Linked DNA regions of Homo sapiens: region 1 is linked to region 2. Evidence: fine-mapped expression QTL. Tissue or cell type: whole blood. Region 2 holds a variant in brackets; the other region holds the start of a gene. All regions are shown on one strand. Distances are from middle to middle.

The links.
Region 1: SDC3 starts here. The variant in region 2 is fine-mapped to the expression of SDC3 in whole blood (TOPMed, PIP above 0.99).

What each region holds. Positions count from the first base shown.
Region 1 is chr1:30,902,329-30,914,305 of GRCh38, reverse strand. It overlaps SDC3 (syndecan 3), which reads left to right and starts at 5,548. Exons shown (of 5, transcript NM_014654.4): 1 at 5,548-5,857. The coding sequence starts at 5,720. RefSeq lists a silencer at 5,504-5,593.
Region 2 is chr1:30,867,379-30,879,355 of GRCh38, reverse strand. SDC3 (syndecan 3) reads left to right here. Exons shown (of 5, transcript NM_014654.4): 2 at 616-733; 3 at 2,191-2,804; 4 at 4,768-5,059; 5 at 5,979-9,890. The coding sequence ends at 6,145. Among named protein-coding and RNA genes, the nearest start is that of SDC3, 35 kb to the left of the region's middle. RefSeq lists an enhancer at 7,949-8,820. The variant C/T (reference allele first, on the strand shown) is at 6,929.

The DNA.
Region 1 (11,977 bases), 35 kb before region 2:
ACCGGCTCGTGTTTTTTTTCTTTTGTTTTGTTTTGTTATTTTTTTTTAGAGATGGGGTTTTGCCATGTTGCCCAGGCTGGTCTTGAACTTCTGAGCTCAAGTGATCTGCCCTCCCTAGCCTCCCAACGTGCTACGATTACAGGCGTGAGCCAACGCCCAGCCCAGTCCACCTCTGACTTTGCTGGATTCAGGCGATAGTATCTGGCGGGGTGGTGGGTGGCCATTCAGAGGCACATTTGCCATAAAATGAAGCTGATGCTTCAGGGCCCTTCATTTGCACAGCCGCTTTCCAAAGCCTTCTTCCTAACTGTGTACTCGAGATCCCTTCAAACCGTATAAGCTTCAGACCCTACAGAGGTGGGACCCACCTTGTTTCCACCCCTACCCAGCTTGGAGTCCCAGAGCTCTCCTCTCCCCTCAAGCAGCTCCCCTCCCCGACTGCCAATCTGGGGCTTCTTCAGCCACAGGCCCTGCTGAGTCTACACAGCCTCTTCCCTCCTACAAGGCCAGCCCAGGCCTTGCTCTGTGACCTACAGGCCACAGAGCTCAAACAAAATCTGATTACTCCCCCTCCTCGCACACCAGCCCTGAGGAACCTGGGGATCCACCAGCCCTCAGGAACGCTTTGGGATCTACAGTTTGCAAACCCTCAGCTCACAGACCTGGAAGAGGCCTGAGTTCAAATCCTAACCTGTGTCTAGCAGCCATGTGTCCTGGGGTGTCACCTACCCTCTCACCCTACAAGGACTTTCCCAGCACACAGGGAGGTCAGGGAAGGCTGGCCGAGCCTGGCTCTGTACTAAGGGCGGGGCATGGCTCTGTGAGACCCTCATATGGGCCAGGTCCCTTCGGCGGGCAGGAGGCTCCCCACGATTGAGGACCCCTGTTGTGGGAAGGCCAAGCCTTCTCCCAGTCACCCTGGTCCGGCCACAGGCCTTGCAGATCCTTCCCCAGTGAGATTTCCACTCACTGGGGCACCAGATGGCTTCTGAGTCTCCCCAGCTTCCCCTAGGAGGACTTTGGGATCCTCCTGATCTGGAGCCCTCTTGTCAGAGCCCTGTTTTGGTTCCTCAGTTTTGGGGGTCACTGACCTCCAAGACTGCTGTCACTTGGACTTTCTCAGAAGCAAGCCTGGGCTGTGGCCTCCATCCTGACTCTTGGGCAAGACCGGAAGTTGTGGTGGGAGATGGTTGGGGTGGGGAGGGAGCAGGATGGAGATGGGGGTGGCGAGGGGAGGCCGGGACTTGTTTTGCAAGCCCTGTGATTGCCTTGAGCTGAGACAGCACTTGTGTTTGGGAGGTCTGGTAAGGATCATAAAGTCCCCTCTGCCCACGGGGGACAGCTCAGCACAGGGTGAAAAGCCAGGGCTCTGTCATCACATGCCTGGTTCAAATCCTGGCTGCCCACTTCCTGGCTGGGTGACCTGGGATAAATTATTGAACTCCTGTGAGCCCCAGATTCCCCAGCTGTGAAATGGGACGAAGTAGAGAGCAAGCACCTGGACAGGGCTCACTGTGTGCCGGACTCCAGGGCTGGCCGCTCATTTGGTTCTCATAGTAGCAGCCCTGGGAGGCAAGTTTGCTTGTCGTGCCCAAATTACAGGCCTGTGGGGAGGAGTAGATGAGGGTGTGTTTGGCAAGTGCTCAGAACAGTGCCTGGCAGGTAGTAAGGCCTCCATCAATCTTGGCTTTTAGGATGCCATGGGACTGTTGAGGTCCAGAGAGCTGGTTGTCTTAGCCAATCCCCTGGGGGACAGGTAGAGTCAGGTGACAGCTACTGAGCACCCACTCTGTGTCAGGCCTGGGCGTGCCACTCTGAATAAGGCATCTTAGGCTCACCTGAGTGGAGTTCAGAGATGCCGCTGAGGCGTCCCCACCCCTCTGCTGCTTGGTTAGAGCTAGGAGGCCCTGTCAAGGGCAGAGAAGGCTCTGACTGGGGTGGGGGTGAGGTGGAAAGGTTGAGATGTAGCCACTAGGCGTGCCTTGTGGGGTTCCCCAGGGGCCAGACTGCATGAGTATGTCTGCATGTTGGTGTGTGACTGTGTGAATCCCCTCGGTGACTCTAATTCATTCATCAAACGCCTCCCAATACACCACTGGGCCTGGCATTGCAGTTTAACTGTTGGCCTGGGTCAGGATCTCAGCTCTCACTGCCAGTCGTGGTGCCTCGGCATATCTCCTATCTTCTCTGTGTATTGGTTTTTCATCTGGAAATGGGGCTAATGTGAGTGTGCATTTGATAGAGCAGTGCCTGGCCCATAATCAGCTCCACTTGGGCCCTTCTATAGCTACTGTTCATTTGGGATACTGAATGCTCCCACTTTTGAGCAAGACAGACAGTAGGGACTGAAAGCAGGGTGGGGAGTGCAGGATGAGTGTGATCAGGATGCCGGCAGGACAGGACCAGGCCTGATCACCCAGAGGACATCAGGAAGACTTCCCAGAGGAGGCAGTGTGTATTCTAAAGGCCGGAGGGGGCTGTGACTATTGTGCCAGGAGGCGGCAGCAGCTGGTGCCTGTGGGTGAGGTTATGGTGCTATGAAGGGAGACCCTGAGTATGTGGGGATGTGGCTCCAATGCACAAGGAGGCCTGGGCAAGGGTGACTGTGCAGATGACCCATGTGCTTGAGGGCAGGAAATGTGTGCATCTGTGAACCCCAGGGAGACCTGGGACCCGGGGGGAGCAAGATGAGAAGGACCTTCAGGGGCCCAGACCTGTCTTAGTTCTGGCTGTGACCAGTGTCTTTGAAGAGCAGCAGGTGGCGCTCCTGGCCTGTCCAGACCAAAGATTCTCCACTGCCCCGCCCCCACCTCTTCCCCAGGATGTCAGGGAAGTGGAGTTGCTGCTTCCAGAAGTCTCAGAGCTGGCAGGAACCTCTGAAGATGGGCCATGCTCACTGCCCATCTTACTCATGGAAACCATCCTAATGGTCTCCCTGCTAGATAGTTCTCCGAGCCTTGAATACCTCTCAAGACAGGATACTTACTGCCTCTTAGAATTGCCACTGCTGTCTGTGGCCAGCTGACATCTGGCTCCTCATAATCCCCACCCTAACCCTGCTGGCCCTTTGGGAGCGCCTCAGGGTTGGTATGTTCCTGGGATCTGCTCAGCATCTCTGAAGGATGATGTTATCCCTACATCTGAGTCCCTTCCTTTGTAAGCTTCATTCCCAGCCACCTTCATTGAACTCCATTACGATGGCAGGGAAGAGCTCATGTAATCCTCACAACCTGGTACCTGGCCTGGCACACAGCAGGCACCCAATTTATGCTTGCTAAATGAATGAATGAATGAACTCTGCGTGGTCATTATCTCTATATTACAGTTGGGAAATTGAGGCTCAGAGAGGTTAAGTCACACATCCAACACAATACAGCTCATAACTGGCAGAACTGGGATTTGAACCCAGATACTTGGCCGACCCAGAGCCAGAGCTCTTCAATTCCAAGCTGTGCTACCTCAACAGAAACCAGTTTCCCACCTATTGCACCCCATCAGCCTCCCTGCCCATCTCCCCAAGGTGCCAGTCAAATTTGGATCGAGCATTGATGTCATGCCAAAAGATTTGAGAATTGAATTTTCAGAGGCTGGGACCTCAGAATTCCTAGTTCGAAAGTCTCCCTGTCTTCCCTGTCCAGGATCCCTGTCAAAGGGTGGTGAGCTTGCCTTTCATACCCTTTAGGGACTGGGCTCTCCCTCCCTCCTGGGGAGCCCCTTCTAATTTATCTCTACTTTATGTTGAGTTGACCTTTGTCCCCTGGTCCTCCTCCCAAGGGCCCTGCAGGACAAGTACAGTTACCCCCAACACCAAAAACCCATGGCTGGTCCCCCAGAGTCTCTTCCTCAAGGCCTGCCCCTCCATTCATCCTGGTTTTGGTTCCCCTTTCCTTGAGGGAATTGTTCCAGTTTCAACTCAATTTCGTTCCCCTATTTTCTTTTCTTTTCTTTTTTTTTTTTTTTTTGTTTTTGAGAAGGAGTCTCGCTCTGTCGCCCAGGCTGGAGTGCAGTGGCGCGATCTCGGCTCACTGCAAGCTCCGCCTCCCGGGTTCATGCCATTCTCCTGCCTCACCCTCCTGGTAGCTGGGACTACAGGCGCCCGCCACCACGCCCGGCTAATTTTTTTGTATTGTTAGTAGAGACGGGGTTTCACCATGTTGGCCAGGATCTCCTGACCTCGTGATCCACCCGCCTCGGCCTCCCAACGTGGTGGGATTACAGGCGTGAGCCACCACGACCGGCCTGATTTCATTCCTATTTTCTAATGGCAGGCTCTAAGCTGGGTGCTGGGACACAGGGGCCAGAGAGGAGAGTAACTGAGGGTAGAGACGTCCAGCCAGCTGTCATCAGCAAATAACCTCTTCTTGCTGGCTCTCAGCTTCCCCACCTAAGAAGTGAAGATATTGACAGACCGACCTTATGGGGTTCCTGAGAAATGATATAACACATGAAAGCGCTGGGCACCTGGCATGTGGTCAGGGTTCCAGAAATGTTTCACTCTCCCCTATCTTGCCCCAAAACACTTGGTTTTGAGCCCCAGTAAATGGGAAACACATTCATTGATTCAGCAAATTTGGATTGAGCATCGATGTCATGCCGAGCTCTGTGCTGGTGCTGGGGACATAGCAGTGAACAAGACAGACACAAAACCCTGCCCCCGCTGGAGCTAACACGCCATTGGAGACTTGGAGAAGTAAGAACAGCATGGGGTATGCCGCTGGGGATGAAGGTGAAGGGGGAAAAGGCACCGTGACCACACAGGGTAGAAAGACCACCAGCGCTAGAGACTGCCACTCAGAGATGTACTTTTCTCGCCATCCTGCACTGGAGGGGGTGGTCCCATTCAACCATGGGGGGTCTGAGTCTCAGAGAACTGGGGGCCTTGCTGGAGGCGCACAGCTGGTGTGGAAGCAGCTGCGCTCAGGTCTGCGTGGCTTTTCCTCTGCAGATCCACAGTGACAGGGCCCAGAAGTGACCACCCCCATGGTCCCCTGGGGAGACCGAGGCCCAGAGAGGGCCGGGCCCTGATCTGAGGTCACACAGCCCCTGGGTGTCCTGGAGGCATGAAAGCCCGTGGTCTTGGATGACCTCTGGCCCACTGGGTGGACTGGCTGAGTGTGTGAGGGTGACGATGGGAGTCCAGGAAGAGACACGTGCGTGGAGCCACAGGGGGAGGCTGTAGATGAAAACGCCCATGCGACCCCTCCGCTCGGCGACTTCAGGGAGCCAGGCCCGGGCCCTGGTATCCCACGCGGGACCCTTCCCTTCTACCTAGCACGGCGGCCGCGGAGGTGCGTCCGGCGGGCTCCGCGACCTCCAGCCCCGGGATCGGCGAGGCCGGCTGCTCACTCAGGTGTCCGGGTGCCCACTCGGCAGCGCGGGGCTCCCTCTGGGTGGGGGCGGGGGCTGGGACTGGGGTCAGAGGGCGCGGAGCCCCGCGGGGGGCGCACTGGGGCCCGCCCCGCCCCGGGCCCCTCCTCCGTTCCGCCCGCGCTGGGGGCGGCCCGGCGGCGGCGGCGGCGGCGCACGCTTCCTGCGGGCGCGGCCGCTGTGGGCGCGGAGCTGCGAGGCGGAGCCGGGCGGCCGAGCCGGGAGCCCGCGAGCCTAGAGCGCGTCGGTCCAGCCGCCGGGCCGCGCCGCCGCCAAGCAGCCGCCCCGCGCGCCGCGCCTCGGGAACAAAGGCGCCCGCCCGCCGCCCGCCGCCCGCGCCCGCGCCGCCGCCATGAAGCCGGGGCCGCCGCACCGTGCCGGGGCCGCCCACGGGGCCGGCGCCGGGGCCGGGGCCGCGGCCGGGCCCGGGGCCCGCGGGCTGCTCCTGCCACCGCTGCTGCTGCTGCTGCTGGCGGGGCGCGCCGCGGGGGTGAGTGACACGCGCCCGGATCCCCGCCACGGCTCCCCGGGGCCGCCCCCCGCGCGGGGTGCCGGTCCCCGCCCGCGACCCCCCCTCCGGGACCCCGCTCCCTCCCCCCCGGCTGCTTCCCCCGGGGCCGCGGTCCCTGCCACCCCTCGACCCTCCCCCGAGCGCCCCTTTCTGCACCCTGCTCCCCCCCCTCCGGAATCTCCCCCTAGCTGGCATCCGCGGGGAGAGGCCGCCCCCGCCGCTGGTCATCTTCGGGGGGCGCATCTCTCCTTCCTTTTGGGACCCCTCCCCAGAGGGAATCCCGGGAGGGAACCCGATCGCGGGTCCTCAGCCCTGTTCCCCCACCTCCCAGTGGCTCCGGGAACTGTCTCCCCGGGGACGAAGCGGGACCCCTGCGCTGGCCTGGGAGGCGCGAGAAGGACCCGGCGGCGGGCTGGGGGTCGCCGTCCCGGCTGGGTGTGTCTTGGGGTGGGAGTGAGCCTGGCTTTTGCCTCGTGGGTGTGCCCAGACCATGGCCACTTTTTGGGAATCGGATCGGTTCCCCTTCCGAGGGGAGGGTGTGCATTTGGTTCTTCCCAGGGTCGCGGCAGCCGGCCAGGGCAGTGGGCCCGGGAAGGGGAGGTGGAGGTGGAGGGTGACTTGGTGAAGGTGACCTGAGGGGGGAGTGAGGGTAACCCTGTGTGTGGGCGTGTGTGGGCGTGTGTGGCCAACTCAGTGAGGGGTGCGGGGACCTGTGGGGCGTGTGCAGGTGAAGGATGTGTCTGCCACATGGGTGGATGCCAGCGTGCCCTCCCGTCCGTGGTCGTGGGAGGGTGACCCATTGTGCATGATGTGTGCCTGTGCCTGGCTGGGCCACTGTTGGCTATGGCCGTGTGTGGCTGCAGTGGGTGAGGGTGTGTGTGTGAAAGACCTCTGGTGGGCGTGTGCTTGGACCCATGAATGTGTGTGAGTGCACATAGCAGCGTGTGCATGCAGGTGCATGGGGGACCCTGGACATAGGACGAGGACCCCTGAGGGGAACCAAGCATGTGCAGGTGGAGGTGATGGTATGTATGAGGTGACCCTTGAGTGTCCCTTTGAGTGACCGTAGCAGCCATGCTTGGTCCCAGCTCCGTCAGGGATGGCAGAGAAAGGAAGGACCTCATCCCCCTTTGAGGGATCCAGGCCCCAGATGAGTTCTTGTTGGACAAGTGTCCAGGTTCTGGCTCAGGCGGGCTGGGGATTTCTAGGTCCAGCCTCCCAGGTTGGTTCCAGGAGCTATGCTGTCCTGCATCCCCCAGGCTGAAAAGGACCCAGGCCTCTCAAGCAACACTGGGTGCCCAGCCGCCCTCTGCAAGTTCCTTCCCTTTCCCAGCCTCAGTGGGCCAGTCAGTAAGACAGGAGGAGGACAGGCAGGGGCTCCAAGCTTGCTTCTTGGATGGACAGGCCCCTCCTCAGCCTTCCCCATCTAGGGGGCTGTCAGCTGGAGGGAGGGGAAGTGTTGAGGGCTGACCTGTGTGAAGTGCCTGCTGGCCAGGATGTCTCATTCCCAGCTCTCCCCTAAGTGGGGTGAGAGGAAGAGGTCCCTGGGAGGGATAGAGACCCAGCACACCCTAGCAGCTGGGGTCGCCTTCTCAGCCAAATTTCTGAAAGACCATCCTTAAAATCAAAGGCTTGGGAATCACACAACCCTGGGTTCCAATCCTGCTACCCCCGCCGATTCGTGGCATGGTTTGGGCAGGTCCTCTTACTTCTCTGACCCTTGGTTGTCCCTCTGTGAAATGGGGCTAATGACCCCTTCCTCAGAGGGCAAAAATTCAATGGGATGACTGACGAGTGTCCTGAGAAGGAGCTCAGGAGTCATGTGGTGTGCACATGAATGAAAGGGGCTCAGGACAGAAAGCTTTAGACTTGGAGGCCAGGTGGAGCGCTGGGCAGGCCACTTTCCTTGCTGAATAAGGCTAATAATTCATACTCCACGAGGTGGTGGAAGGACTTAGTGAGAGCATTTAATAGCCTCATGCACAGTAGGGCCTCGCAACACGGGTGACCTGAATCTGAGAGGTGTGGCTCAGACCCAGTGTTGGGTGGCAGATCAAGCAGACCCTGGGAGTCTGAGCCCAGAGGCTGAAATGGTGGGTGGGGCCTGGGGGAGGGCAGGTACTGGGGCGCCTGGTGAGGTGGTGGGAAGTGGAGTGTCCTCCAGGCCTCACATCTTCCCATGGGTCAAGCTGTCAAGGAGGGGCATCATCCCTCTTGTCCTCATCTGACTTGGGAGGAAAAGGGTTAATGGGTGGTACCTGGTTGCCGGGGTTCCGCACCAGAGGGAGAGGGCAGTGCCTGCAGCAGGAGGGACTGAGGTTAGATCAGAAGAGCCCCAGCCAGGGAAGCTCCAGGGGTGGCCTTGGTAGATGAGCGGTGGCTGGCACAGGGCAGGGAAGGGCAGGGACATGATGACCCTTGGGTCACCTGCCAGCCTTTGTGTGTGTGTGTGTGTGTGTGTGTGTGTCTTCGTGTCTTTCAGCATGGGGATAGCAGGGAGAGCAGGCCTCATTCACACTGCAGATGGTGAATTGCAGTGTGTGTGTGTGTGTGTGTTTGTGTGTCTGTGTCTGTCTCCTGGCATCTCCTTTGAGGAGTCCCTCTTCTGACAGACCAAGTTACCAGGACTCTGAGGGACATCTGCCTTTAAGGCCACCTCAGCTACTGTACTTAAGTCACCACTCAAAGTTTTGGAGTGTGAGGATCCTGAACATTTTAGCTTTTGAAACATGTTCTTTCAAAAGTCCAGGGCTGGAAGGGATCTTAGGTGTTAGTCTTGTTTGAATACTCCCAGTGATGGGAGACCACTACCTTGTGGCTGTGTGACCTTGTGAAAGTTACCTAACCTCTCTGTGCCTTAGTTTCCACCTCTTTAAAATGGAGACAATGCGAGAATGGAAGGGCTTAATTTGGAAAGCTTTTAGCCCAGTGGCTGGCACCTACTAAGGGCTCAACAAATATGGATTTCTTGTTCTTTTACAAAGTTGCTGTACTGTGGTTGGGAAGGCAGGAGGGGTGGGGAGTGGAAGGGTGGGAGACGTGTGTGTGTGTGTGTGTGTGTGTGTGTGTGTTTGTGAGAGAGAGAGAGTACGGATGGGGGTGGGGGTGGGGGTGGGGTGGGGTGGGGGAATTAGTAGGGAATTCTTTTGAAGCTCAGCCCCAGGCCTGGTGGTTTCCGTTCCTTCCTCACCCTGTTTCAAGCATCCCTGCTCTTCTCCCCTCCAGGCTCCCCTGGGTGACTGTGAGCCTTGGGTTTCCAGGATGAGATAGTCCTCACCAAAAAAATGGAAAGTTGGGGGCCCCTGGGCTGTTCTGGGCCAGGCTCTTGGGTGAACCATCTCCCCTTCCAGCATTTGGGGGACAGGCACAGGGACACCACAGCTGTATGCTGCCTGTTAGCTCCCAAGGTACCAGGGGCTCTGGGGACAGACACCTGCTGTGTGATTTCCAGTGAGGGATTTCTTTCTGTCTCAAAGTCCTTGTCTATAAAATGCGGACAGTAATGGTGTCAGCCTCACAGGGATGTTGTGACTTGGAAATGAGCTGCTTGAGTAGACCGAGCACACCTGCCACGTAGTGAGCTCTCAGGAGATGGGACCTTTCTGGGAGGGAGCATGGATGGGGTCAGGGAAGGCTTCCTGGAGGAGGAGGGTTTTGAGCTAAGCAATGAAAGTGGTCATCACATGACAGTAGCAGGCTGTAACCTGCCCTGACCCTCAGCTTTCTTACCTGTCAACTGGGGGCAACAAATACTTGGCTTTTAGAATCACTACTGGGGGCTGTGACTCTATCCTCAAGGCAGGGCTGGGATTTGAACCTGAAGCCTCCTGCTCTCTGGGGAGGAGTGAGCACAATGCCTCCAGCTGTGAGTTCAGTGTGTTGGGGGTTGGTGCGAGGTGAGCTGTGCTGGAAAAAAAAGTGAAAGAAAACAACAAACAAAAAACAAAAAAAATGGCCTTTTGAAACCCAGTGGCTCCTCCCACCTCATACAAGCGGGCATAGGGTCCCTGGGGGGTCCGGGGCAGCAGGAGTGGTGGCAGTGGTGGGGAGAGCGAGGGGGGGCTCATCCCAAGTGGGAGAGAGAGGTCATGTTTACCGAGAGCCCCGCCCACCAAGCACTTTACATGTATCGGCTTATTTCATCCTTACAATAATTTTTTGATGTAGGAATTATTAGAATCCTCATTTTAGTATTTTATTTTATTTAGAGACAGAGTCTCTATCGCCAAGGCTGGAGTGTGGTGGTATGATCCTGGCTCACTGCAACCTCTGCCTCCTGAGTACAAGCGATTCTCCCACCTCAGCCTCCCAAGTAGCTGGGATTACAGGCACCTGACACCACACCTGCCTAATTTTTGTATTTTTAGTAGAGATGGGGTTTCACCATGTTGCCCAGGCTGTTCTCGAACACCTGACCTCAAGTGATCTTCCCACCTCGGCCCCCGCAAAGTGCTGGGATTACAGTTGTGAGCCACAACCCCCAGCCAGAACCCCCATTTTACAGAGGAGAAAACTGAGGCACAGAGAGGCTCAGTGACTTACTCAAAGTCACACAGCCAGAAGTGGCAGAGCTAGTATGAGCCAGGGCCTGACAGGCTAATGGGACTGGGCTGCAGTCCTAAATTTACCCCCTCTTGCTGTGTGATCTTAGGCAAGCTGCTTTACCTCTCTGGGGCCTCCCTACCCCCTGGATTATGTCTGCATTAGCTACTGTTTAGTAAATGCCTGCTCTTCTGGCGGGGTGGGGCTGGGAAGGGGGTTGGTCCCATATCTTTTCTCACTTAATTCTCCCACAGCCCTGGAGGTCAGTGATGCTGTCTCACCCTGTGGGAGGGATTGGCCAGGGCTCTTCCTCATCTACCGCCTCCCAAGGCTCTGTAGCCCATAAAAGCAGCTACTCTGAGGGCCACTGGGGGTGTATGGGGTGGGGAGAGAGAGCTTTATAAACTGCGAAGGGCTGTCAGCAAGATTGTGTGTGCGTGCATGTGTACATTTGTGTGTGTGCCCACACATGTGTATGCGGAAGGGAGTTTATGTCTGGGTCATGTGGTCAGGGCACAGGAGAGGGGAAATGTTTGGAATCTCAGGATGAGAGGGGTCTAAAAAGCCACCATAAGCCCTGATATGTGCCAGATGCCCCCAGTGTTGGGGACTGAGTCTGCAGAGGTGACCAGGCCTGCCTTTAACCCCCTCTGGCCCTTAGAAAGTGTGTGGAGGCCAAATCCGTGTTCCTCCTGCTCCATCTCTGAGCACTGGCCCCATTGCAGCCAAGATTCTCTCTGGCCTCATAGTGATTGAGGCTTAGAGATGGGGTGTGACTTGGTGGGGGTCCCCCAGCTGTCAGGAGTGATGTCAGTGCTTTCTTGATAGACTTTGAGCTTCCTGGGCAGGCTCGTGGCTGCCATGTTTTCTCACTGAACCCCCAGGGACCACTCTGTGCTTGGTGCAGGCTCGAGTGAATGATTCAAAGGAATGAATGAATGAATGAGGGAATAAAGGAATGAAGGAAGCCGGGACTGTGAGCTATGGAGCCCAGGCAGGGGCTTGTGTCCTTTCCTGTGTAGGTGGGTTGGGGACAGTGAGGCTGGCAGAGTCCTGCTGCATGCAAGGCATGTGCCCGTGGGCTGGGAGGCGCCAGGGGGCTGCATCGGGCGGGCCTTCAGTCTGAGTGCCAAGGCACTGCCACCACCACATCTGGGCAGGACCGAGGGACTGTGGCTCTGGACTACAGCCCAGCTGCTTGGAGCCCTTTGATTTTGTGTCTCAAGGGACAGGGTGGCCAGAGCCAGGAGCTGCCCAGGCCCCAGGCCCTTGCTCCCATCATCCCCCCAAACCCCTGTCCCAGCAGGGAGCAGGGTCCTGGACTTCCTGACCTGTCTCACTGGCCCCTCCAGGCCTCTGTCCTCCATAACATCACATCCTGGGAACATCGGGCTGGCTCTTGGTAAATATTTGTTGATGGCACCCCCCACACCCTCACTCCCCTTGGCTCCCAGCCTCCCCAGATTCCAGGAGGCCTGGTGGCCTTCACTTCCGGCCCCCCTCCCGCCATGGCCAGAGGGGCAGCCACTCCCCTCCCCCACTGGCCAAGCCCAGTCT
Region 2 (11,977 bases):
TACTGATTAATTCATTACTTTGAGACTATGTGTGTGTGTGCATTTTGTGAGGGGGCACCTCCTGGCTCCCTGCCCTGGCTGGGCTGGGCAGGGCTCTGGAGCAGGTGGTTGAGGCTGGGGATATGAAGACAGGATTGAGATCCTCACTCTGGCTCTGTATCAACTCCAGAAGGGGGCCCATCAGTGGCAGGGGGTGAGAGGCTGGGCCCCAAATGCAGGGCCATTCCAGCCCTCGCCTGCTCACACATGCCCCAGGGCTCCCCACAGCCAGCCCAACATTGCGGCTGCTCAGAGACCACCCCAGACCTACTGAACCACTGAATTTAGTTTTCACAATATTCAGATGTGCAGTCAAGATGAAAAATGACCAGTTTCTAAGAGAAAGTCATCAGCCAGACACTGAAAGCCTTCTGGGATGGGACCCCAGGTGACTTGCCACACCCCACCCCTGCCCTGTGAATTATTCACACACGCACTTTCCTTCAGGGTACACACAAGATCTCTGTCACCCACGTGGATGTCACTCAGCCCACAAGGGCACCTGTCGCCCTTCTGGGCTCACCCAGGCTGCCAGTCTCGGGTGCCGAGCCCTGTGTCCACCTCTACCTTCCCTAGGCCCAGCGCTGGCGCAGTGAGAACTTCGAGAGACCCGTGGACCTGGAGGGCTCTGGGGATGATGACTCCTTTCCCGATGATGAACTGGATGACCTCTACTCGGGGTCGGGCTCGGGCTGTAAGTACCCCCCTCCCTACCTCTGCCTGGGGGCAGTGACCAGTCTGTATCCAGCCTCAACTCTGAGAAGCCCACGGGGGGCTTGCTTCAGTGAGGCAGGGGGCATTCACTGCCTGGGTCAGGCAAGTTCTTCTTGCTCTGGATCCCCAGAACAAGAAGGGCAGAACATCCTTCTGGGGATAGAACAAGACCTGGGAGGACCTCAGGGCCCAGAATGTCCAGGTCTCCAGGGTCCCACGTCTGCATCTTTGTGTGTGCTATGTGGCTTTCTCTGCAGACCTTGCTTGGTTCCGGTGGTCCCGTCAGGTGCAATAAGCTGTGGCCAATGGTGGGGTTAGGGCAGTGATGACACAGGGCAGGTGCTTCAAGTGGTGCCTGGGATGGCCCCGCCCTGGGGAAGGGGAGCCAGGTCAGCTGGGTCTAGCAGAATCTCGGGAGAGAAGGGCACCGCGAACCCCACTCTGCCATGTAGCAACTGTGTGCCCCTCGGTGCTCCCCCTCCCTGAATCCCTGTATTTTCACCTGTGGATGGTGAGAAATACGACTTCTTCTCAGTGCCTCTAGGAGGGTTTGGGATAGGAAGCTGGGGTCTGGCACAGAGGAGGAGCTCTCAAAATGGTAGCAAAAAGAAGGCAGCTGAGACTGGGCCCAGTGAGGGCACGGGCTGGCATCTGAGGAGATGGTACGGGGTCTGCACGCCACAGAGCTGGCTCCCCACAGCCCTCGCCTCTGGTCTCCCCTCCTTAGCCAAGTCCTTTGAGCCTCTTTCAAATTAATCTTTGTAAAACCCGTTTATATTGGGTCACATCTCTATTCGCAAAGTTCCCTGGCTCCCCTCCCTCCTGCCTGGTTCCGAGCCCAGGAGCTGGCTGTGGCTTCTCCCTCCCCCATCCCCTACTCCCCATCTCATTTCCTCCCAAGTTCCTTCACTGTCCCGGCTTTGCGTCAGCCAGATTGCTCAAGCAGTTCCCCTGCCTCAAGGGCTTCTTTTCCCTTTTACCCTCCGCCTCTGCCTCTGGGGGAAGCCCTTAGTGTACCACCCCTGCCTTGAGCTTGTGGTAGGGGTGCCTTTGGGGTCTGACTCTTCCCAGAATGCCACTCCTGTGTTCCCCTGCAAGCCCCAGCAAGTTTTGCAGCCAGTAGCGCCTCAGTTGCTGCTGCCTGGATTCAACCTCATAGAAACTGTAGGCTGGGTGGGCAGGAATAGTCAAGGAAGGCTTCCCGGGAGAGGCGGCCCCCAGAATTTTTGACTTGGCAGAGAGAAGTTGGGGAACATCAGCAACTGACCACCTTTAGCTGGGCTGTGCCTTCCTCCTTTCTCTCATCTTTTCTGGGAAAATTGGGTAAAGAGAGGGGGTTGGGAGACCTAATCTTGATGGCCATTGCTTACCTGGGATCCTCATGCCCCTCACAACCACCCAGCTCCCTAGCTCTCTCCCTCTCCCCCACCCCCTCAGACTTCGAGCAGGAGTCGGGCATTGAGACAGCCATGCGCTTCAGCCCAGATGTAGCCCTGGCGGTGTCCACCACACCTGCGGTGCTGCCCACCACGAACATCCAGCCTGTGGGCACACCATTTGAAGAGCTCCCCTCTGAGCGCCCCACCCTGGAGCCAGCCACCAGCCCCCTGGTGGTGACAGAAGTCCCGGAAGAGCCCAGCCAGAGAGCCACCACCGTCTCCACTACCATGGCTACCACTGCTGCCACAAGCACAGGGGACCCGACTGTGGCCACAGTGCCTGCCACAGTGGCCACCGCCACCCCCAGCACCCCTGCAGCACCCCCTTTTACGGCCACCACTGCTGTTATAAGGACCACTGGCGTACGGAGGCTTCTGCCTCTCCCACTGACCACAGTGGCTACGGCACGGGCCACTACCCCCGAGGCGCCCTCCCCGCCCACCACGGCGGCTGTCTTGGACACCGAGGCCCCAACACCCAGGCTGGTCAGCACAGCTACCTCCCGGCCAAGAGCCCTTCCCAGGCCGGCCACCACCCAGGAGCCTGACATCCCTGAGAGGAGCACCCTGCCCCTGGGGACCACTGCCCCTGGACCCACAGAGGTGGCTCAGGTGAGGGTGTTGAGAAGGGACAGGGAGGAGGGCGGAGGAGGGTGGGTCAGGGGAGGGATGAGGAGGATGGGGCTGGACAGGACTGAGGACCAGGAGGCTATAGAGATGAGCCAGACAAAGTGGGGGCGAGGGGCAGGACCAAGGGACAGAGATCGGATAGGGAGGGAAGAGGGACAGAAAACGAGGGCTGGGGTGGTTGGATCCTAATGGGATGGGACATTGGTGGGGAAGGAATTGGGTGAACGTGTGCATTGGTGACAAGGGGGGCCGGGCTGAGTGTTTCGGTTGAGAGAATTAATTCAGTGGTCTGGCAGCTGGATTAGAATCTTTCCACTGCCACTTCCTAGTCACGGGACCTCAGGCCAGTCCCTGATCATTTCTATACCTCCGCTTCCTCATCTACGGAAAGGAGAAAACAATAGAATGTGTATCATTTCATTGTGAGCGTGAAGTCTCCTGACATCCACAGTGCTTAGAACAGCGCCTGGTGATGGTACAGCCAGTGGGTTCTCAGCTGCTGTCGTCATCACGGTTGTTATTATCATGGGTCTGAGGGTGGTTAAGAGCTGGTGTATGAGAAGGCATCACTCGCCTTGTGGAGGGCTGCCTGGGTGTGGGTCAGTGCTCAGCACTTTACCTGTGTTAGCCCCAGCCCTCATGCCCACCCCACGGGCAGCACTGTGGTCATCTCATTTTACAGACGAGCAACTGTGGGTGCACAGGGAGGTGAAGCCACTTCCCAAGGCTCCGCAGCCAGCGATGACAGTCAGGATTTGAACCCAGGCAGTTGGTGCCAGAGCCGGGCAGTCTCGCAGGGCCAGGGCTGCATGTGTGTGCATTTGGGATATTCTGGATGGGGCAGGGGAATTGATGGGAAGAGGATGAAGATGTCAGGAGTGCCAGGGATGGATGAATCCCAAGGACATGAGAGAGGTGGTCTGGTCCCAGCTGGGTGCACTAAGTAAGATGGAGAGGTGGGAACATGGACTGGGTGCCAGAGCCCTCTGCAGCTGGCCTCACTGTGGAAGGCCCTTGGGCCGTGGCGCTGCCTTGGGGTCAGTGTCAGTCCCTCTGACTCCCCAGCCAGCTCTAGCAGGATGCAGGCCCTTCCCTTGCCTCCTCAAGCAGCTGGGGCAGCCTGGTGTTTTCACACAGACTTGGCCAAGCAGGAAGGGGAAACAGTGATGGGGCACGGAGCCCAGGAGAAGGTGCACAGGGCCCAGGTTGCTGGAGGAGCCATTGTGCACGCTGTGTACGCTGGGGCACTGCTGCAGCCTCTTTTCAGCCTGGACATCAGGCCTGCCTTTCCATGCCCACCTTTGAAGTAGCGACATCCCTGCTCTGATGGCTCCCACAGCCCCCACTTTGGTCTCATCATTCCCAGCTCTGATCCTGCCTCCGAGTGGTGGGAGCCCTAGAGATTGTCAGTCACTGAGCTGGTTTCCGGGACACCTGCCCCTGAGGCCATCATAGTCTGCAGGTTGTGCTCTTGGACTGGCCTCCAGGCTACAGAATGCTCCCCTGCCTTAGGCATGGACTGGGACCAGGCCCACATCCATAGCATCTGCACCCAGCAGTTCCCAAACAGCTTCTCGGCAGGAATCCCCCAAGGATTGTTACTAAGGCAGCTGGAGGGGACATGAGGGGGACAGGATGTCCAGAGCAAGAACAGAGGCAGTGTGTTAGTGGTTAGAAACACAGACTGTGGAGACAGATAGATCTGAATTTTAGTTCTGTCCCCCACTTACTAGCTGTGTGTCCTTGGGCAGGTCATTTATGCTCTGAGCTGACTTCCTGCTCTGTAAACTGGGGGCATTGTTACACTCCTTCATGGGGATAGTGTGTAGCACAGTGCCTGGCATGTAGGGAGTGCTAAGTGTTAGCCCCCCAGGGCAGTAGGATGGTGGTGGGGGGTTATGCATGCATGTGTGGTTGTCCTGGGCTCATGCCACCCTCTCTGCAGACCCCAACTCCAGAGACCTTCCTGACCACAATCCGGGATGAGCCAGAGGTTCCGGTGAGTGGGGGGCCCAGTGGAGACTTCGAGCTGCCAGAAGAAGAGACCACACAACCAGACACAGCCAATGAGGTGGTAGCTGTGGGAGGGGCTGCGGCCAAGGCATCATCTCCACCTGGGACACTGCCCAAGGGTGCCCGCCCGGGCCCTGGCCTCCTGGACAATGCCATCGACTCGGGCAGCTCAGCTGCTCAGCTGCCTCAGAAGAGTATCCTGGAGCGGAAGGAGGTGCTCGTAGGTGAGGCTTGGGGTCTGGGCCAAGGGGAGCCTGGGAGGATACCAGAGTGAGACAGCTGGCTGGGCCTCAGTTTGCCTCTAGGAACCCAGAAAGGAGATCAGGGCGTGGTTTCCTAGGAGCCAGATAGGAAGGAAACTTGAGAACTCAACCCCCCAGGACCTGCCTTCTGGCTCCTCCCAACTTTCCTCCTTCCCAATATCCAACCCTGACTTCATGTCCATCTCTAGGTCTTCCCTCAGTGTCCTCTGACCCCTCTGTGGACTCTGACTTTGATCCCTGCTTTCCTGGGCCACACTGGCTGACCCCCTGGGACCTTACTTCCTAGATGCTAATCTCTGACCCATCCTTCAGCTTGACCTTCCCCAGTTTTTGACCCCAGTCCCTGTGGACCTGCCCTGGCCGCATCTAGGGAGTCTGTGGACTCCTGGTTCAAATCCTGGCTTTGCACTCAAGGCAAGGTACTTCACCTCTCCAGTCTTCCTTCTCTTCATCGGTAGAATGGGGATAGTCATTTTGCCCTTAATCAATTCTAAGAGGCACATCTGTTCACATGTTAAGTCTTCTGTAGTTGGGGTATGTCATATTTAGTTAGCAGAGCTTTTTCTTTCCTAGCAGTTATAAAATACTGGGGCATCTTATGAGTGGTGGCATTTTAAATTTGATGAAGCCCTCAGATGACCCCTCCCTCATAGGGCTGGTGTGAGGGTTCAGTGAGTTAGTGTGTTGGGCGATTAGAATGCAGCCAGTGAAGGCCTATGATGGTACCCAGTGCTGGTAGTAGTAGTATTGACTCCATCATCACTCCAACTCAGATCTGGGACTCCCAGCCCTCTCCTCACCCTGGCCCCCACCCCTGAGGACCCTTTGCCCTGGTTCTACCCTGCCTCTGGGCCTTGACCTGTGCCCTCTTCTTCCACAGCTGTGATTGTGGGCGGGGTGGTGGGCGCCCTCTTTGCTGCCTTCTTGGTCACACTGCTCATCTATCGTATGAAGAAAAAGGATGAGGGCAGCTACACGCTGGAGGAACCCAAGCAGGCGAGCGTCACATACCAGAAGCCTGACAAGCAGGAGGAGTTCTATGCCTAGTGGAGCCACAGTGCCTCCCTGCAGCCTCAACACCACCCTGCTGTCCAGTCCCCAGCCTGGCCCCACCAGCCCAAGCCTGGGACTGGGCCTGGAACCTGGCCCCAGTTCTTCTCTGCCCTCTCTCCCAAGGTCTGCCCAGGCTGCCAGCCTCACACAGATCTTCCCCGAGGAAGAGGGGCTGCTGCCATCTGCCCCAGACTGTGCCCTTACGAGCTCATCTCTTGTTCCCCTCATCCCTGCCACCAGTCTGGGGCTTCAGGACCTCATGTCAGATGGATGGGAGGAAGAAAGCTCCTGATTGGCTGGTGGTGGAAGAAAGGGTGGGGCTTGAGATGAGCCTGAGCCCTGACTTGGCACCCACAGTGCTCACTGAGATCTCCTTTTTGGGGCAGAGAGGCACTCAGGCTGGTTTCCAGGACAAACATTTGGTAAACACAGCCCTTGAAATCATCTAGACACTGCAACCTCTTGCTCGTATCCCAGGGCCTCTCTCTAGCTGGGTGAGAGGGTGTCCCTTGTCACCAGCCTGTTTTGTCCTGGTCTCTCTGGGGTTGTTGAATCTCTCCTCTTGCCTGCCAAGTACACATGTACCCAGACTTCATTTCTTTCTGCATCTTCCCCCAAGAAACAGCTTCCTGAGGGTGCTGGGGCAGCCACTGGTGAGGAGGGGCTGCTCTGATGTCCCTCCTATGAGGGGACTCTGCACAGACACCATTGCCCACACTATCACCATATTTTCACTCAGTCACACACAAGACAAAAGCATGCAATGACAAAACCATA[C/T]GCAATCCTGACCGCCCAGCCAATCAAGACATATCACAGAACACACGCGTCCTTCCAAGAATGTTTATCCTCATGCATCACTTACACACCCCCAGACACGTACTGCAATGCAAGTCACTAGTCATGGTCACATGACAGTGACAGTGTGGCCTCCTCCTACCCCAAATACACCCACACTCTGGCACCACACACATTGTCTCCAGCTTTCAGGCTTACTGGGGAGGGTGGAATCGAGCCAGAACAATCAGCCCATATTGGGTCCCCCTAAGTTGCCCCGTCATACTCAGTCCCATGCCATGGTGCCCACACCAACCATGCAGCCGCCAACCCCAGCCAGTGTCAGACACAATCCCATGTGGATGCACAGTCTCACTCCACATGACCTGCTCTCAATGCTGGAGGGAAACAGGCAGGCCCTTGCCTTTCTCGGAAAAAGTGTGGGGCCACAGCCCTTTTAGGGCATTGCATGCAGGTGGGCCTGGCTTCACCCCTACCTGCTTCCTCCCCACCGCAGCTGGCAGAGGGGGAGGTTTGGGGCCAGACCCCCACTAGCTGGGAGCCTGGGGGCTCCTCTAAGGCTGAGGAAGGAAATTTGGCCCCAGGTTGTTGGGGGGTCTTGGGTCTCCCAGGACGGAAGGCCCAGGGCAGGGAGGGGGCATGTGGTTGGGCTCCTTTATCTCCCTGTGTCCCCTTCCTGCTTTGAGCTAGGGGGCTGACTCTGCCTCCCAGGACACAAGTCTCCAAAGTGCCTGTGAGGGCGGGCCCTCCGCACCCTCTGCCCTCTGCCTGGCAGGCCAACCTCAGCCCACCTGCCCAGAGGCCCTCCCTGTGGACACCCCCTCACCTATTTGGCCAAACAATTCTGGCTGCAGCTTCAGGGGCCATGGCTGGAAGCAGCCCCTGCAGATCCCTCAGGCCCCGAGGTCAGGGTTTGAGGGATGAGACCAGGTGATAGTGGGGGAGGGGTTACTTCCTTTGTTACCTAGCAAGTAGGGCTATTTCCATCGGTATTTTAAATGTGGGGTCACAGATCTTTTGGGGAGGGTGTGCTTGGCAGGGGGCCTCTTGGAGCCAAAGGGATGTGGTGTGAGTTGCGATTGGCTGGCACTCACACCCCCACCCCTCACCCACATCCCAGATTCAAGTCAGGAAGGCAGGTTTTATTTCAGGGCCCTTTTCAAGATGCCCTGGCAGCAGATTTCTGCAGGATGAGGGGTAGCGGTGTGTAGGCAGTGAGGGGGAGGTTCCAGGGGCTGTCCCACAGCCTGTCTTTTCCAGGCTGGGCTCCATCTTCCAGTCCCAAAACCCTCCTTCACAGGGCCCAGAGGCTTGTGAGGAAGCCAGGTGGACCCAGCCTTAGAAGAGTGGGCATGGGGGGCCCCTGATATCTGGAGGGGGCGGGTTGGCCTCAGTCATCTTTGGAGCAGAAGGGCTGGGTCCTGGGGCCACAGACCACAAGGCTCAGCCTCCCTACCCTGCTCCCTGGGGTGCTGCTGTCTTGGAGAGCACAGCTCTGGTGAGACGGCCTGGGCAGGCCGAGGCTGAGAAACCAGGGAGGATAGAGGAGAAAAGGGCTTGGGCCCCCAGCCCCAGAAGATGCTGGACCCCAGGTGGGAGACCCAACAGTGGGTGCAGTTTCTCAGTAGGGCTGGAGCCAATGGTGGGGGTGGCCCCGGCAGGCCTGGCTCCTCACATCCCAGGGGTTGGCTTCTGATTTGGGGCTTGGGCTCCAGGCACTGGCTTCTCTTCTCTGTGTCCTTAGCATTTGAGAGAAGAGGCCAGGGGCCTTGTTCATGGATCCCTGGACCCAAGGCAGATGTCCAGGCTTTATCCTCCTGAGGATGAGGAGTCTGACCAGCCCAAATCTGCCCTGGCCGGCCTGACCGGGGCAAGGCAGTCCAAGAGAGTTCAGTGAGGACCAGCTAGGCTCTCCCAGGTGCAATGTGGGTGCAGGGCCCTCATGTCCCCCTACCCCTGCCTGTGATGGAGTGTTCTGAGGGGCTTTGGCATTTGCTGGAAGCACAGGGAGTTCCAAATGAGAGGGAGCTTCTGTGGCTTGAGAGCCTCTGGGGCCTTGGCTGCCAGAGCACGAGGCAGGCCAGGACCTGGAGAGCCCAGACCCTGTCTCCAGGAGGCCAGGAGGCCAGATGGGGGCCTTGCCTGAAAGACTGGTCCCCTTGATCGCTGGAGGCATGTGGGTGGCAACCAGGGCTGGGCAGGGCTTAGGGTGTGTGGGCCAAACCCCCCTGGGGTTGGCAAAGCCGCCTGTCAGGCCTCCTGGTGGGGGCCCCTGGACACAGGGAGCAGACCCTCTGCCTCATGGGGTAGGAGTGGCTGCCTCCTGTGTTCTCTGGATTTCTTCTCCCAACAACTACAACCCTGGACTTGCCTCCCCAGGCCTCTTGCCTGTAAATAGAAGCCCGCAAACTGTACAGATTTACAGAGGCATCGAGACTGGGCCCTGGGAGTTGCCATCTGAGAGCCGATGGCCCCAGCATCCCCCAGGTGCCTGCCTGGCACCACAGTGACCCTGGCCTCAGCGTGGCAAATGCATGTAAATATTTTTCGTAGGCAGCGTGGCTCCAGAGAGCCCCCTGAAGACAGTGTCCCTCCCTCCTGTGAGTCCTTTCTCCTGTACAGAACCTGCCTGGGGTGGGTGGGGGTCTGCCATTCCCTCCCCCAGGCCTTCCCTGCCCCTTCTCTCCCCTGTAACCTGTTTATTAACCATACCTGTCCTGAGTTCATGGCCAAAACCTTAAATAAGAAAAACAAAAGAAAAAGACAGTGGAAAAAAGAGACCAAGGCGCCTGCCCCACTGCGGGTACTCTCCTGTTCCAGCCTTGTGAAGGAACTGGTTTTGTTTTTGTTTTTTTTTTTTTTTTTTTTTTTTTGTTTGTTTGTTTTTTTAACACTTCCTGTGCTGTGCCCATTTATAAGAGGAAATAAAATTAAGCTGAAATGATGTGCCGTGTCCAGAGTATGAGATAAATATGGTCATTTGGGGAGGGCAGCCCATGGCCGCACCCTGGGCCCCAGCCATCTTCCCCCATCAAAGAAATTGAGAACCAAGCAGGGAAAATTGACCAACAGCCCCTTGTGGGAACCATTATGGTAAAAGCTGCTGTTGGTTGAGAGTGTCCAGGAAACCACGGAGCCGCTGCGGTGAGGCTGGGATGGGGGCTGTGGTTGGGAGGGGCCAGGCAGTGGTGAGAGGGGCCTGTGGTTCACCCCCAGGGGAACTCTGGCTTTAGGCCACAGAGAAAATCTTGGTACCACAGGATACCAGAATCAGAGCAGCCGAGACGAGACGAGATGGCTTTTAAGTCTGAAGTCTGTTTTCAAGTCCAGGTGTTGACATTTCCTAGCGCTGACTCTGGACAAGCCACTTGACCTCTGTGAGTCTCAGTTTCCCCATCTGTCAAATGGGGTCAGAATATCCCCTACGTGGAATGTTGTGAGGACTGCATGAGGTAGAATGCTCAGCACGGCACCTGCCACAGTCAACACGTAGCTCACAGGGGCTCTGATGATGGCGTTGGAACAGAATAGAACCTTGGGATGGGAGAATGTGACCCAGAATCATCACAGGCCGACTCCTGACATCACAGGGTCATAGAGCTGGGCCAGCCTTGGGGCCCTCCTTGGTGTAGAAATCCCTTTTCCAGCCCCCACTTGGCATAAGTCCTGTCCCAGCCAGCTGGGTGTGTCCCGATGGCCAGTAGGCCACCCTGCCTATTTGGAAGTACTTACTAATTTCAGCTGAAATCTGTCTTTCCAGTGTTGCCCATCTCCAGTGCTCGTACGCCCTGGGGGCACACGAGATTGTTCTGCCCCTTGCAATGGGACAGCCCCCAGGTATGGGTGTAACAGTCACAAAATTCCCTCCTTCGAGGGAAAGCTCTACATGTCCTACAAATATTTCTTCTAGAAATTTCTTCTTCTTGGCCAGGCGTGGTGGCTCATGCCTGTAATCCCATCATTTTGGGTGGCCGAGGTGGGTGGATCATTTGAGGTCAGGAGTTTGAGACCAGCCTGGCCAACATGGTGAAACCTCATCTCTACTAAAAATACAAAAATTAGCTGGGCTTGGTGGTGGGTGCCTGGGTCAGGATCCCAGCTACTTGGGAGACTGAGGCAGGAGAATCACTTGAACCCCGGAGTCAGAGGTTGTGGTGAGCCCAGATTGCGTCACTGCACTCCAGTCTGGGTGACAGAGTGAGAACCTGTCTCAAGAAAAAAAAAAGAAAGAAATTTCTTCTTAATATGTGATAGGCAGGGTGCTGTTGGCCCTGGGAGTGGGTTGGAGCCCGAGGCCTATGGCTTTGGTACACCATCCTACCCATCCCTCCCTCCTTCCAATGAAGTTTCTGTGCCTGGCTCTGTGCTTGGAACTGGGAGCCGAGGGGTCCCCACAACAGCCCCGACCCCTCTCCCTAGAGCATGTACAGTCTATCCGGGAGATAGCTGATAACCAGAGTCTTGTGACTGTGTGATGACACTGGTCTGTGGTGGTGGCGGTGGTTGTGGGAGGGGGGGGGTCATTCTTTCTCAGCTGCCACCTCCAAGCCCCACCAAGATTGCCCCTCACTGCTAGGCAGTTCAGGGACAGAGCCCTGGTGCCCGGGGCCTCACTGTGGGACCTCAGACAGTTTGACTCCTTGGAGCCTCAGTCTGCACAGCTATAAAATGGGGTGAAGGGGCCAGACCTGCCACTGGGAGGTCCTCACAGGAGTGGGCCAGTTAGACACCTGCTATGATGTGAGGGGTTGGTTTACCAAGATTCAAAGCCAAGCATGAGTGGCTGTTCACTCAGGAAGCTTCAGAAGGCAATGCCCCATCTTCTGAGTGCTGTCAGCCCGCCGTCTCCCTCCTACCCTTCTCCCCTTCTCTCTTGAGTTCTAGTGATGTGATTTTATTTTCAGCTTGGAGGAGTAGAAAGAGCATGGTCTTGAAGTCAAGCAGACTCTTTGCTCTACCTCTCTGAGCCTCGATTTCCTTGAAGGCAAATGAGGACAATAAGGTTGGTATTTGGAGGCATGAAGCATGGCA